2 separate regions of the Homo sapiens genome follow, and region 1 is linked to region 2. A link means that fine-mapping ties the variant in region 2 to the expression of a gene that starts in the linked region. Tissue or cell type: anterior cingulate cortex. Region 2 holds a variant in brackets; the other region holds the start of a gene. All regions are shown on one strand. Distances are between the middles of the regions.

Region 1 (8,181 bases), 31 kb before region 2:
GTGGGGTACCTAGTTTACTTTTTTCAGATGACAGGACAGAAGGAAAGTGCAGAATTAAGAAAGGGAATGCAGCAGGGTAAGGACCTCTAAATTTTAAAAAGGCTAATTTTAGGAGGTTCTAAGAAATACAAGTTGTCAGCTGAGGAAATCCTGGCCACCCTTGAGTATCTTCTTCAGGAGAGCAAGGTGAGTCTACCTCACACTGTGTGAGTGCTTAGGTCTGAAGTCACTCAGTCGCATGCCTCTCTTGCCCACAGCCATTACGAAGTGACGGAGCTTCCTTCTCTGAAGTTACATCCTTCTCCCACTTGGTCTTCCCCTCCCCTCCTCCCCCAGCGGTTTTATTCAGTGGATGGATTGTGAATATTGCAGCCAGCTGACTCCCTGTGTGTCCAGTAGGCCTTCTGCAATAAGGATGCAGAGGAGGGAGTAGCCAGGAGGTGAAAATAGCATTGAAAATCAGTGGAGAAGCCCTTGTCTCCTCAGCAACCAGTACCCCAAAGGGCACTGACCAGGGCCACAGCAAGGAACTCTGTTTTGGGGAAGGAGTTGCACACTGGCTTTAAAATAAGACAAAGGAAAGGGGGAAATGTTGTGATTAAAACTCTGTTCTCTTGGCTAGAGGATGAATCATGTAACTCTTGTCTGAGTGCAGCCAATGGTTGCCCAACTGAGTCAGCCCTGCCTGGCCCTCCGTTCTTGGGTGGGGCTTGCCTGGGCAGGGCTGTCTGCAGCACTGCTAGCTGCCAAAACTGAAGTTCTTCAGGGACTTCAATCTGGCATTTCCACCCTCACGTAGCCACTCTGCAAGCTCTATTCCTGGACAGATGTGGGCTTCCTGCATCCTGGTTAGACACATTTTGACAGGAGGGCCTTGGGGCTGGGGCTGAGGGGCTGCAGTGTCCTCTCTATCCCCAATAACGTACTCTTGCACCTGAAACATTCAATTTCATTTAATTGTTTACTTGTCTGCCTGAGATTTAAGCTTCTCTTGATTAAGAACTACAAATTATTCTGCTTTTATTCATGGAGCACTATATAACTGTTATGTGCATAAATGAACCACACAATCCCTTGGGCAGTAGCTGAGGTGCAGGTGTGATTACCCAGGACTAGGCTGAAAGCCTTGTAGCTCAGAGCTCAGGAGGACGATGTGAGAGCTGGGAAGGGCCAGGAAAGGGGCCCCAAAAGTGTTCAACTATGAACGGAACAGTAGATAGAGTACACAGGAGTGCACATTCCATACGCAAAAGGAAAAATATGTGTCCTGCTAAACAGGTCTAGTCAGAATGACATGACTGTGCTCCTTCTCTTCTAACACTTGCTATTTTCTCGTGTTTCATTCATCCCATCTTCTACTTTTTGCTTTTCTAGTGCTGCTATCTCACTGCTGAGCTCCACAGGATAATAACAGCCTTGCTGTCCACTCACCTTTTATTGAAGTATTCTAATCTGATGCCTATACATGCCCTCTACATGTTTGTCTGAGCAACAGGTCTTAAGAAGGGAGGCGGAGACATCTTTCTCTGCATAGTTTTCTCTATGGAAAACAATTCTGGACTCCACAAATTTAGTTACCTTAGGAGGAATTCAATTTTCCATTTTTGGTTCTCCCTCCCTGAGCACCTACTTTGAATGTCCCAGACATGGTGTTAGGCATGAGGGTGTTCACACACACATACACACATGCACACACACACAAAGCTCTCCATGGTGCTTGCCTTTGAGGAGTTCACCAGCTAATGGAATACTATTAAAGCATTTGGCCTGAATTCTAGTTATTTGTGTTTCTGTTTCTTTCCTCACTAGGTTGCAGGTTTTTTGAGCAGGGTCCCAATAGCCAGTGCCCCAGCCCTCATAGAGCCTGCTCGATGAATTGTTAAGAAATTGATAATGATGTATTTTGGTTGTCCTGCGAGTAGCAGACAAGCAGGAGTCCTCCTCAGAAAAGTGTCTGCTCCTGAAAAATCTCAAATGTTTGCTTTGGACCTATGCCCAGATCCCGGCTGCAGTTTCAAAGAGGACACTTCTGCAGAGTGAGTCGGACTTGCTTTGCTCCTCTGTGTCTTGTCCATACCCTAGTTTTCTTACAGCCCACCCAGAAAATAAACGGCAGGGTGTCAGTAAAAACAAACATCTGTTATTTAAAATATGTTTGAGGTTTCCTTCCTTTTGCTTTAGAAATTTTGGAGTTTTTAAAATTGAACCCAGAAGGCATTCTTAAATTTGATCTCTGAAGGGAATTCAGAAAAAATGAGTTGAAGCAATGGATCTGGATCCAGGCTGTCTCTCTCACCTCTCACCAACTAAAACTTGCCCACTAAAGAACTGGGCAGCAAAGGAACGTTTCAGATGCAATTCAATAGGAAGAAAGAACTTGGAAGAAACCTCCTTCAATCTAACCAACTACATCAATTTTTCCTTAAAGAATGCTTAGGCATCAGCCTAATCAGCCAACATAGCTACTGTCAAAACTGCTTTTAGTTAAATCCTTTGGTAGGATGGGTGGTATTTATTTAGTAAAGGGATAGAAAGTGCTGAAAATTGTTTAAAAGAAGTACATTCTTTCTTTTTGCTTTTGATGTGGATTCCTAAATTTGTTGAGTCCCCAGAAAAATGAGAAACTTAAGATGTTAAAATTTTAGTCCAGCTTTCTCAGCACTTTGAGTGCTAATTTATACATTATAATCCTGAAAGAATTCCATTGTTTCTCTCAACTTTACGCTTTAAAAGACTGGACTGTGTCCAAGGGTATACCAAGTGGGTTGTGCTCTACAAAAGTCACATTTTTTGAACTGTCAGTAGAAAGCAGGGAGGCACACAGTCTCAGCTCCACCCTGACCTCACTGGAGTGGCTGCTTAGGAGGCTGGCCAGCACACGGGAGGAAAGGGGCCTATATGATGTGTCGGAGAAAAGCTAGGAAGAGCATCACCCAGAAAGCAGGGTAAGACCCAAAAATTGCTTCATGCCCAGTAGACCAAAAAAATTGTAAGAACCTAGATAAGAAACTCCAAATGGTGGATCAAGGGCCACAGTGAAGAAACTATCCTCTGGCTGTGAAGGAACAAATACACCATTTGGAAGGGATGATTAAAGAGAAACTGGATAGGAATCTGTGGGGGCAGGGCCGATGAAGAAACTTCCAATAAGTTATATGAACTCATTCCCACTCCAACCCCTGGCATTATCTTTTGCAATTTGCTGAAACATGTTGGAGGCAAAGATCACCGACTGGGTGTTTCCATGAGCCTGGCCTCACCTAAAACGCACAACATAAAACTCCATTCCTGGAGACTGAAACTCAAGCTTCTGGGGAAAAATATCCGCAACAACTGCAAACCTCTTAGCGGGAAAAGCTACCTCCCAAGTAAGGCTGAGGCAGGCTGCCAGGCGCATACTGGCCGATAACGAAAAGCGGTCTCGCCAAGGCCCTGCAGATCTAATTACTGCCCTCACCGGCAGTTCAGTCGAGAAACCTCTCCTGCAGACTGGCAGCCAGACCAGGTGTGACTCACTTCCTCTTGGAAAATGCCCTCTGAGATGGCACAGTTCTCCTTTTCCTTCAGGGAGTGTTCTGTCCAAACCATCCACCGAGAGTATCTGCAACCGGCCACACCCACATGGTCTCACAGCTGAGTCACAGGCCTCAGACCACTGGGAGAATCCTGGAGCCCTTTGTGCTAACCACGCCCTGCAGAAGCTCCCGCAGAGACGGAACTGGGTGGGGGCAGAAAACGGGGTGGGCTTAATGCATCCCAGAATCTGGCTTAGGGCTCCCCTGTGCTGGCCTGGCTTGGAGCGCTCTGCATTCCACCCCAGCCAACAAGGCAGAGCTCCTGGTTTCACTTAGGCAGAGCTGGACTGAGGCTGGACAGGCAGCAGTGTCCACGGCTAGGGGCAGCGCCATTCCTTCGGCCAAAGCACAGGTGGTGAACCAAGTACCAAAGGCACGTCTGTCTGTTTCACTGCACCGGGCCAAATTAATCTATGATTGGAAGATCCTTCATCAAGCCTGCTCTTCCTCCATCTCTTTCTGGTTCCACTTATTAAGACAGCAAGGGAACCCTTTCAGTAGAGAAACCACGTCACACAGGGCCCTCTCCCACAAACCCCAGCCAAACTGCTGTAGAAAGAAAACAAGTGGACCTCCCTCCCTCAGCAGGAAGACCCTTTCCGTCGAGCAGACAACAGGAAGCCCCGACCAGAAACGCCTGTTTGGCCGACGGACTAAGGGTTACGGAAGGGACGCCCCAGCTGCCTACTCGTCCTACCCGCGCCTACTTGGGCGGTACAGCCGGGAGCAGGCTACGAACATGCAGACCCGGCCTGCGAGCGGAACCCACCAAGAAACACGCCAGCCAGGGCAGGGGCGTGTAGGAGGGATTCGGTAACCCGAGAGACGAGTGGGAAAGTAGGAAAGGTGGGAGTAAAGCAACGCAAACATAAAGGGAGGAGGGAAGAGGTTCAGGCGCACCAATACCACGGTCCCCTCCTAAAGAACAAGTGCCCCCTCCTCTGGTCCGCGTGGGTCTGGGGGCGGCCGCGCCCGGGCCGGGGAGGGGCGCTGCTGGCCTCGTTTGGGTGTGGCCCGGAGCACTGAGCAGCGGATTCCCCACCAGCCGCTCCCCGCCCAGCCCCGCGGTGCTCCGGACGCCCCGCGAAGCCGGGTGCAGGGTTTTCCCCGGGCAGCAGGTCCGGGCCTGGGGACTACCCAGGAGGGGCGCGTGGGCCGGGCGGAGCTCACCTTGGCCGAGGCGCGGCGGACGCTGGGCGAGCTGGGCGAGCTGGACGCGGGGCGGAGAGGCGAGCGCGGCGGGCTGTGCGCCTTCCTTAGTACGTGCGGCGGGTGGGTAGAGGGAGGCGGCGCGGGAGCGGGAGGAGCCTGGCGGGCGCTCGGCAGGGCGCTCCCCCAGCCCTGTCTCCTCCCCCTCTTCCTGCCCCCGACTCCCCCGACCCCGGGCGCGCGGCCCACGCCCTGCCCTCGCTCCCGGACCCGCCTCGCAGAGGCCTCGCCCGCCCCAGACAGAGCGTTCTTGTAAACTTCTCTTCAGTAGAAACGGTCCTGCTCTCGAATATTTCAGGGCATCCCCACCCTGAGCCTGCCCTTCCTCTCGGGTTTGGTTTTAGAAAGTGTACAAATCAAAGAACCCGGCCGTCCTGCGGGTGGGGCACGCTGGCGCAGAACCAGAGGTAACCGGCTCTGCGGCCACCTACGGGTCTAGGAATTACTTGCTGGATGACCCTGCAGGGAGTGGCACGTGGAGTCCTATCGACCTCAGAGGCACTATCAGATTAGCCCTAGGAGGTCCGTCTGGGGGTCTCGGCGGCCTGCGCCAGTGGAGGGGCGGCACCTCCCCAGAAGCCGGGCTTCCCGCCCCACCGGCCCGCGAGGTGCCGCAGGGAGGGTGCGGTTTGGCTTGTCAGCACCCAGGGGCGTCACAAACCCTTTGTTGAACAGGGGATTTACCCCTTTGTGTGGCGTCACTTGATCAATAGTTCAGTTTCAGTGTGGCTAATAGTGTTAAAAACTGGCCGGGCGCGGTGGCTCACGCCTGTAATCCCAACACTTTGGGAGGCCGAGGCGGGCGGATCACCTCAGGTCAGGAGTTCAACACCAGCTTAGCCAACATGGTGAAACCTTGTCTCTACTGATACAAAAATTAGCCGGGAGTGGTGATGCGCGCCTGTAATCCCAGGAGACTGAGGCATGAGAATCGCTTGAACCTGGGAGACAGAGGTTGCAGTGAGCCGAGATCGCACCACTGCACTCCAGCCTGGGTGACAGAGTGAGACTCTGTCTCAAAAAAAAAAAAAAAAAAGAAAAAAGAAAAAAAGAAAAGAAAAAGGTTAAAAACTAAGTTTCCAAGGCAGTATGCTGTGGTCCTTGAAAAGTCCTTTAGAAGAATTTTCTGGAATAAATTTAGAGAAAACCTAAGTGTTTCCTAGGGGATGCTTACCAACTCCTCGCCCCTCCCCCGCCCGCCCTCTTTTATTTTAATTGTGACTCAGGGTTAAATACAAACTACTAGCAGCTGTTGGTGGAAAAGAGCCCAATCCCAAACTCTGGGGTTTTCCTTTGTTCCCAAGGGAGGCCTTGGGAGGAATGAATGATCCTAAAGGAATGAGCAGACCTGGGGAATCCTCCAAGTGCCACCTCTGACTAATATTGGCTGTTGCCAGGAAAACCCAACTTGGATTTCAGCTATTACTTTCCGTGCAACCCTGGTGCTGACTATTCAAGGGGACAGCTCTTCAAGATCTTCCTGTATACAGTACTTCCCAGTCCCCAGGTCACAGTCACCAGTGGAGGAAATCTCGGATCCCTTTTGTTGCAGGGATTGCAATGCGACTGGGTTTAGAATGGGAATGCCTGGGTTTGCGTACCCCTACTCATCTGATTTCTTCATCTGGTCCACAGACCTTAGGAGTGCTTTAGTGTATGTGGTAGGCCTGGGAATTCAGGGATTAGAGAATCAGTCTCTTTCTCTGAAGAGTTCCAAGTATTGGGCGTTAGATAAGCAAACAATTAAAATCCAGTGTGCTTAGTGAATGGTAGAGGATACTATTGGATACTAGGAGAACACTGAGGAGGGGCTTCCAAGTCCTCTTGGAGTGGTCACAGAATAATTTCTGCAGGAAGCAACATTGGGTAGAAATTTAAAAACAACAATAACACTTATTGTAACTTTTTAATCTGTACAAAGATTCCATTCTTAGAAGGCTTGGAAAATATATCAATGTATAAAAAATGATTTATAAATACATGAGCCAAAGATAAACATTTTCATATTTCTAGTCTTTTTATGCATATGTAACAAATATTTGCATAATTGTGATCATACTGATTATAAAATTAAGTACAGTCATTCACTGCATAACAGTGTTTGAGCCAACGATGGATCATGTATTCAGCAGTGGTTCCATAAGATTATAATAGAGCTAAAAAAATTCCAGTTGCCTAGTGACCTTGTAGCTGTCTAGCGCAATACTTTACTCATGTGTTTGTGGTGATGCTGGTGTAAACAAACTACTGTGCTGCCAGTTGTATAAAAATATAGCACATACCAATTATGTGTAGTATGCAATACTTGATAATGGTAATAAATGACTGTTACTGCATTATGTATTTACTACACTATACTTTTCATCATTATTTTAGAGTGTATTCCTTCTACTTATTAAAAAAACAGTAAAACTTAAAAAAAAGTTTAAAAAACAGCCTCAGGCAGGTCTTTCAGGGGGTATTCCAGAAGAAGTCATTGTTATCACAGGAGATGTGTGTTTTTGCCCTGGAGACCTTTCAGTGGGACCAGATGTGGAAGTGAAAGACAGTTATATTGATGATCCTGACCCTGTGCAGGTCTAGGCTAATACGTGTGTTTGTGTCTTAGTTTTTTTTTTTTTTTTTGTGTGTGTGTGTCTTAGTTTTTAACAAAAAACTTAAAAAAAAATAAAAATTTTAAAAATAGAAAAAACTTACATAAGAAGGATATAAAGAAAGAAAATATTTTCTACAGTTGTATAATGTGTGCTTTAAGCTAAGTGTTATTACAAAAGAGTCAAACATTTAAAGAATTTACAAGTTAGGCTGGGCGTGGTAGCTCACACCTGTAATCCCAGCACTTTGGGAGGCCGAGGCGGGCGGATCACGAGGTCAACAGGTCAAGACCATCCTGGCCAACGTGGTGAAACCCCATCTTACAGAGAAAGAACTAGCCGGGCGTGGTGGCACGCACCTGTACTCCCAGCTGCTTGGGAGGCTGAGGCAGGAGAATCGCTTGAACCCGGGAGGCGGAGGTTGCAGTGAGCCGAGATTGTGGCAGTGCACTCCAGCCTGGAGACAGAGTGAGACTCCATTTCAAAAAAAAAAAAAAAAAGAAAAAGGAAAGAAAAAGGAATTTCCAAGTTTATAACGTAAATTTACAGTAATCTAAGGTTAATTTGTTATTATTATTTTGGTTTTTTGAGACAGGGGCTCCCTCTGTCGCCCAGGCTAGAGCATAGCAGTGTGATCTCTGTTCACTGCAACCTCCGCCTCCCGGGTTCAAGTGCTTCTTGTCCCTCAGCCACTCGAGTACCTGGGATTACAGGCATGTCCCACAGCGCCTGGCTAATTTTTGTTTTTTTTAGTAGAGATGAGGTTTCACCATGTTGACCGGGCTGGTCTCGAACTCTTGGCC
Region 2 (8,181 bases):
GGGATGGACCTGTCTCCTGCCCTGTAGGCAATGACCACAGCAGCATGTCTAGCCTTCCACTGAGGCAGGCGCGTCTGTCTTTTCTCAGAGTATGAAGAATTCAAAGACCTCATAAAATCTATGCTGAGGGATGAGCTGCAATTCAAGGACGAGAAGCTTGCAGAGCAGCTTGGGCAAGCTGAGGAGCTCAGGTGAGGCGGCCCCGTGGGGGCAGGCAGGTGGGCAGGTATGTGAATCTCTGAAGTACAGCAGCTCAGCCGGGAGAAATAAGAGCTAAGCTGGGCCAGGGGAAGGGCAGGAATTGCCATGGCAGGCTCACGACACCCAAATATTTATCAAACAGAGAACAAGGATAATAATAAGTTATGAGTTGCAGTTGTTTCTCAGAACCTTGTTTTCTCTTTTTCAAACAAGTAACTGTTGAGGTGAAACTTGCATAATGCAAAATTAACCAAAGGAGTGGAAACCACCCAGCAGCATTCAGTATACTCAAAATGGTGTGCCATCATCACCCCACTTACCCTTAGTCAGAATCACCTCCTGACGGACTGCGGCTTCTCATTCTTTCACTCAATCAGTGTTGCCTTCTCGACCCTGTCATTCTTTTCTTCTTTCGTCTTTTCAATTTGCCCCATCTGCACCTAGCCTCATTTCTGTACCTGGCTTTGTATCTAGTCACCACAAAATACCTTATGTGTATTTTCACATGGAAATGTCGATGGCCAAAGTGAGGAATTGAAAGGATGTCTTTTTGAAACTGATTTAGAAAGACCTACTTTTGTTTACAGAAGAGAAATATGAATGCAACATTGTCGAGGATATTTCAGTTGCACTCTCTGATATAGAGGAAGCCTGTAAAAAAAATTCTTTTTGTCTTGGCCACAGGCATTTCCCCAAACATGTGCTGACCTTCTGCTTGGAGGTCTCCTTGAGGACATTGTCTCAGAGATCTCTGTTGCAATATTAGAACTGATCACTCATCCCTTTCCATTATTAAATTTTCTCTACTGTCTCACCTTAGGCAATATAAAGTCCTAGTTCACTCTCAGGCACGAGAGCTGGCCTGGTTAAGGAAGAGATTACAGGAAGGGAGAGATGCCTCCCGCTCATTGAATCAGCATCTCCAGGCCCTCCTCACTCCGGATGAGCCTGACAACTCCCAGGGGCAGGATATCTGAGAGCAGCTGGCTGAGGGCTGCAGGCTGACAGAGAACCTCATCCACAAACTCAGCCCAGGTAAGGTGGCCACAGGCCCTGATGACACAAAACCCCAGGCTTATGAGAGACTCCAGACCTCCATACCTCCACAATGACAGTTGTATTGGTGGTGTTTTTTTCCACTAAACATATGTGGCCATGACATGACCAGGACTTCCTGGGTAACAACAGAGATGGGAAACCCATGGGATTGGTGGTCACAGTATTGTAAATGTCCCTCCTTCCTTGATGGAAGGTGGTCTTTGGAACAGGAGGCAGCATCTCTCCAGTTTTAAAGGACAAGAAGGAGGCTGTGACAGGAGGGCGCTTGTTAGAGTGAAAAGAGCTCTGGACTAAGCATGGAGGTTCCCAGGCTCTATCTTCAGCAACGTCCTTCGTAACTGTCGGTGAGTGATTGATTTATCCTTCCTGGGTTTCTCTCTCTCCATCTGCAAAGGCCGGCAAATTGTCTCTTGCAAGTGTCTTTAGCATTCAAATGTGGGAACACTTAACGACTGCTTTTCAAAATGAGATGAAGCTCCTTGCCGTGTGGTGTTGGAGAAGGCACTTGATGTGGGGGCATTTGGTGGTAGGAGTGCTTCAGACTGGAGTACTCTCCATGGAGAGAATGTCCCTGAATAACACAGCAGAAGCCACTTGGTGGGCCTGTGAAGTCCCCTGATGGACAGAGGACTGTGGGACAAGTTTGTCCTCTCCTAAGAGAAAGAATTAGTTTCGAAATGTGAACTGTGACAGGACACCAAGCCTGTGCCTGGGAATCAGATCTGTGGCAGGATGGCGGAGACAGCTGCCAAAGTCCAGAGAGAGGCTGGACAAGTCTCCAGGGATATGGGGACCAAAAGATGTTTTCAATATTTGGCCACATCTTGATGGTGGCCCTCCAGATCAGAAATGCATTGCCTGATGGATTAGGAAACTGTGCCAGGGCATTTTGTTAAAGATAAAACATGAGAGCTTTCAGTTGAATGGTGACCCATGCCTAGATGTTCATGTGTCTGCACACATTGGGCTGACTATGCTTGCAGAATGTGAAGTGAGAAATATCTGAATGAACATTCCTGTATTTACAGAAAATGATGAAGATGTGGATGACGATGTTTACGTTGAGGAGGCTGAGAAAGTGCGGGAATCACGTGCCCCCAGGTAACACTGAATAATCAGGAGCAATAATGGGTGGTAACATATGAAAAAGATCTAGGAGGCACACTCTCTCTGGCGTCTACATTGGGCCAAAAGCCTGCATTCCCCTGGCCACAATATGTTAAATTCAACCCAGCTTAGACACAGGGTGTGGCAGCTGTTATGGTTCTCTGTGTGTGCTGAGTGTCATGTCTGTACCATACAGGGATAGCTGAGTCTCCATCCTCCTCAGCTCCTATCTGCCCAGTGCAATGAACACCAGCTGCTGTCTTCCTCTTTGGCTCCCATAGCAGCCATGCTCTGTTGCAGAGAGTGGAGGAGTGCCTGTTCCCTCTTAAAGGGAACCTCCTGTTTGCTTTCTGGGACCACTCTCTTATGCTTCCTGTCAAAACTAGCTAGGACTCCCTGAGGTCCAATCCCTCTCTGTTTAATCTTCTGTTATGTCTGTGTCACCTGGCTCATCAGGGAGGTGCGAAGCCTGAAGAGAAGGAATTGATGAAATGATCATACAGATATGTATATTGCATATATCTATGCAATATACATATTGCATCAATATCCCATGATATTGCCGGCTCAATGAGGACAGAGTCCTCTCTCTATTATGATTTGGATTTGAAGGGAAGATGCCATGGGTCCTAAACATCGCAGCATGACCAGCGTGTGCTGCCCACGACCTGCAGTGCCATGGTCAGGTGGAAGTCATTTTACTTCAGTAGAGGACAGTGTTCTCTTCTGACCTTTTCCTCAGTGGCTAGATCTGTATCTCTCTCTCTCTTCTCCCATCTGCCCTCCGTTCCCTGCCCCGCTTTGTTTTTTCTCTCTGTTCCCACCCTGCTGGCCCCTTCCACCTGTTTTCTTTTCTTCAGCTTTCATCGTTCACCCCCCTCTGCCCACCCATATGCCCCAGGCTAAGTCCCCTGCACATTCCTGGGGAGGGGCGTAGATGTGTATGGTTTTAGGCAGTGCCCTCTAGATGTGTCCATGATGGGGAAACATGGCTCAGCTGCCAGTATAATGCTTTAAAAGAGTGGCCACTTTTGAAGGCCTTTTACATCTAGGATCCTCTATGACTTAAAATATATGGGCCACATTGGAATTCCTTGTTCCCCAGGACCTTGCAGTGGATGCCTTCTTTCACTGAGCATTCACAGGGTGCCTATTAGGTGCCAGGCCCTGCTCTGGGCTAGGGGCTCCATTGTGAGCAATCCTCAGTTCATTGCCACATGGAGCCCACCTCTGCAGGCATCAAGAGGGTGGGGCCGTCAACCACATCTACCAGTGCTAAGCATCAAGGACAATGAAGGCTGAGAATAGCCTGCTGGATTTGGCTATATGGTAGGTAAGGACTTGTTTGATTCTGGGGAAAGCAATTTCAGCAATGGGGAGGAGAAAGCAGCCTTGTTGCAGGGAGCTGAGGATGCTTAGTAGTGAGGAGATGAGGAGAACGGTGAGCTAGCATTTATGAAGCAACCTTTGCTTCCTATGTGATAATTACACTTTTCCCAACTTTCAGATTTGTGTTTCTTCCCTTGCCAGAAGTTAGTCTCTTTACAGACTGGACTTGCAACTTTCCGGAGTCATTGTCTTTGCTTGCATTCCTACCAGAATCCCTAGTGACTCTGCGGATCATGTTTAATGATAATGTTGACACTAAGTCATTGTGAGGGTAAAATATGAATCTGGTAACAGAAACGTTTTTCTCGGTG[G/C]AGAGAGGTGGGGCCGGGAACCAGGACTACTGATGCTTCTCTCTGCCCCCACTGTCTAACTTTACAGGCAGCTCAAATCACTCAGAATCCAGTTTGCGGCCAGTGCAGACTTGCCTCTCCCTCCCAGTCTTCTTTCTTGGTGGTGACTGGGAGAGATTTAGGAGATTAGGGAGGGCCAAGAAACAAAGCATGAATTATCACGGTTGCTGCACAGGTGTGGTCCTCTCAGTCTCTCTGCCTGAATTCCCAACACATCTCTCACCAGGTTGCTGGATGGTACAATAGGGTCATTGTAAGGTGGGTGGGTGCAGTGAGTCAATGAAGTCTTCCTGAGGTGCAGGGGGGCAGGGAGGGATCCTCTCCCCTATAGCCGGAGCTGGGTCACAAATTGGTGGTGGAATGCCCAGCTTCAGGGTCCATTTGCACGGCTGTATATTTCAATTATACACTTGGTTCTTTTTTTATATATATATACTTTTGTTCTTGTTTTATGCATTTGATCTATTGATTTATTTGACCATTTTAAACACACTCATGCTAACATCCTTCCAGATTGCTCTCCCTCTTGTTACTCAGTGTGAAGTCTCTAGTCTGTTGTATGTACTTGTCATCCCTCGTGTGCCTGTGAGCCTATTCTAAGTGTATTTATCTCCTGTGGACATCCTCCAAATGTCTGGAGGCATCTCCACGAGGTGGTTTTGCATTTGTCTAGGGTTTTATGGCGCTTACAACTCTGGGGTAGTTTTTGTTTTATTTCTTTAATAGCATGTGTTTGAACCCCATGCCTTCTGGGAACACAGGTGCAGTGCTCTGATTTCTCTCAGATGACTTTGCCTCGCTCCAGGGCTCATTCTGTGTCTTGAGAGGTGGTGGACTGAGCTTTCCAGTCTCCATCAGTGACAGGGCAGCTCTTTAGCAGCTCTCTCTTTTCACTAAGAGTTCAGTTCTAGTTCTCCACCATGGCCTGGGCCACGTGGCCTCCGCTCTGGGGCACCGTGACAGCTATCAGTTCCCTTTGTGCTTCCGGCACCTGAATAATTCTCTTTCTGCCTTTTAATTGACCAAGTATTTTAACTTTTTGAGGGGAAGGGGAAGATTCTATGTTATCCAGCATTATTTGCGGTAGGAAAGGGGCTTTCTATATCTGCTGCATACTAAATTTTGGCAGAAGTCCTACCACCATGGCCCAAATCTCCATCAAAAGAGATAGATATTTGCTTGATTTTTTTCTTCTTGTTTTTCTTCATTAAAAAAATGTACATTGGATTTAGCTATGATTTCTTGGATATGACACCAAAGCCACAGGAAATGTAAGAAAAAAACATATAAATTGGACTTCATCACAACGAAAAACTTTTGTGCATCAAAGGACACTATGAATAGAGTGAAAAGGCGACCCACAGAATGGTAGAAAATATTTGCAAATCACATATCTAATAAGGGCTTAATACCCAGAATATAAAAAGAACTCCTACAACTCAACAAAAACCAAACAACCCAATACAAAATGGGCAAAAGAATCAAATAGACATTTTTCCAAAGAAGATATACAAATGGCCAATAAGCACATTGAAAAGATGCTTAACATCACCAATCTTTAGGAAAATGTGAAAGGAAACCAAAATGAGATACTATTTCACATTCATTAGGATGGCTATTATTTTAAAAAGAAGAAAATAGCAAGTGTTGGTGAGTATGTGGAGACTTTGGAAACCTTGTAAGCATTGCTGGTGGGAATATAAAGTGGTGCTGCCACTGTGGAAAGATGTATGGTGGTTCCTCAAAAACTAAAAATAGAATTACCATATGATCCAGCAATTCTATTTCTGGGTTGTATTCCCGGAGACTTAAATCATTATTTATACACCTGCATTCATTGTAGCACTATGCACAATAACAAAAGGTGGAAGCAACCCAAGTGTCCATCAATAGATGAATGGATAAACAAAATGTGGCACACACACACACATACACACAAATATACACACAATGGACTATTATTCAGCCCTGAAATGGAAGGAAATTTTGACATATGCAACAACATAAATGAATCTTGAAGACATTATGCTAAGTGAAATAAGTCAGACACAAAAAGACAAATGTTGTATAATTCCACTGACAGGAGGTACCTAGAGTAGTCAGATGAATAGAGACAGAAAGTAGAATGATGGTGACCAGGAGGTAGGTGAGGGGAGAGAGGGAAGTTATTGTTTAATGGATGCAGACTTTCAGTTTGGGAAGATGGAAACGTTATGGAGGTATTGGTGGTGATGTTTATACAATGTGAATATACTTAATGCTACTAAAATGTACACTTAAAAAATGGTAACAGTGTTAAATTTTTATGTTCTGTATATTTAACCATAATAAAAAAATTTAAAATTTTCAATAACTCAAGAAAATACACACACAAAAAAAGTCTACCTGAATTAGTGTTGTCACTTTACTCTGTGTTCCCCTTGGTGGCAGGAGTAGCCATGCGGTAGAAGAATACCAATCTCAGCTTTCTGCAGTGTGCTGGATATTCTGTTTGCTCCTCCAGCTCCACTTTTGGTGCTTCTCTGCCCAGCTCAGACTTCCAGTAGGGTGGACCAACAGGAGGCACTTGCAGGCGATCAGAAGGTGGGAAGAGAGAGAAATCAATATTTATTCCCCGGGGTCCCTCCTGCCAGGCTGTGGTTTGACAGTGGCTGTATTTCTACATCTAAGGCCACAGCATCCGTGAGTGGCCCCTCTTCCTGGGCTATATGGCTCTTGAATTCCAATAATTTCTCCCTTGCCAGTCAGGCTGAGAGGTGGGAACAGCATCCTAATTTTGCTAGTCCTGGTGCTTTGCCATCTCTTGTTATTTATCTTATCTCTTACATCTTCATAAATAGTGCATTCCTTAAATTCTCTTCAGTGACCCGTTTGAGTGTGCATGTGTTTCCTGTGGGAACCCAGACTGATATACATGGTATGTCCCACATCTGGTATAGCATTCTCTTATCGCTTATTCATGTATCATATATTTTTTTCATTCAACAATTTTTTTTTGCTACTATATGCTGGGTACCACATTAAGTCCTAGCAATACAAAGATGCCTTTAATTAGGTCTCTGTTCTTGAGCTCAAAGTCAAGTTAGAAAAGACAGACAAGTAAGAACACTGTAAGTAGAGTGGCAAGTGCTATGATAGAGGCAAGAATGGAGTGCTCTGGAGCATAGAATAAGAGCATTAAAATCAGCTTTGGATAGGGGTCTTAGGAAAGGCCTTCTTGGGGAGATGATACTTACACTGCTCTACAGGGCAAGTAGAAACAGGTGGAAAGGCGGCCAAGGCCTTTCAGGGCAGCAAGAAGAGCGTGTGTCAAAGCAAAGAGGCACATCACTGTGACATCAGTTCTAGCCTTGGTTGGCAAGGTGGGCAGGGAGCAGACCACAAAGGCTCTTGAGTGCTCCAGGGAATCCTGTATATTCAGAAGGTCCAATGCCTGGTTTTACACATGGGAGCGATACCAGAACATTTGCCTTTAAAAACTCTCTTTGATCACACGGTGGAGAAAGGGATGGAAGAGGTCCAACTGGACAGGGAGAAGCTTAAGAGAGTTTATTGCAAAATGGTAGAGGTCCTCTTTTCTAAAGGGTAGGGACCTGTAGTTGGTTTGGCTAACTTAAAAAAATTGGTGAAAATGGATATTTATAAAAAGGATATTTAAAATATTTGCTTTAACTTAAAACATGTATATTTATCAAAATTTTGCTATATTATCTTTCTTGCATAAATCACACTCACAGTGGATTTTAGTACAATTGTAGCTACCTCTCAGATGTGTCCCTTAATTCATTAGTGGCACAAGAAGGAAAAAATCAGTAGTCATTAAGTCTCCATATTATTCCTTTAGCAGGTGCACCCTGTATTTTTTTTTAAAAAGTGTCACTATCCCCAAAAAACAGTGAGCTAGGGAAGAGATGGAAAAATATCAGGCACCCTACTGGTCTATTTGCTACTTTACCAAGAAATCGGGCCGGGCACGGTGGCTCATGCCTGTAATTCCAGAACTTTGGGAGGCCAAGAAGGGCGGATCACGAGGTCAAGAGTTCGAGACCAGCCTGGGCAACAAGGTGAAACCCCG

What was found. PIP is the estimated chance that this variant, and not a neighbour inherited with it, causes the effect.
Region 1: it holds the start of S100A10, and the variant in region 2 is fine-mapped to the expression of S100A10 in anterior cingulate cortex (GTEx, PIP 0.92).

Annotation. Positions count from the first base shown.
Region 1 is chr1:151,989,007-151,997,187 of GRCh38, forward strand. It overlaps S100A10 (S100 calcium binding protein A10), which reads right to left and starts at 4,853. Exons shown (of 3, transcript NM_002966.3): 1 at 4,746-4,853. RefSeq lists an enhancer at 2,893-4,092 and silencers at 4,661-4,960, 4,971-5,020, 5,151-5,280.
Region 2 is chr1:152,020,149-152,028,329 of GRCh38, forward strand. It overlaps LOC105371442 (a long non-coding RNA gene), which reads right to left and starts at 7,440. Exons shown (of 3, transcript XR_001738235.2): 1 at 7,343-7,440; 2 at 6,492-6,671. It also overlaps the pseudogene NBPF18P. The variant G/C (reference allele first, on the strand shown) is at 4,068.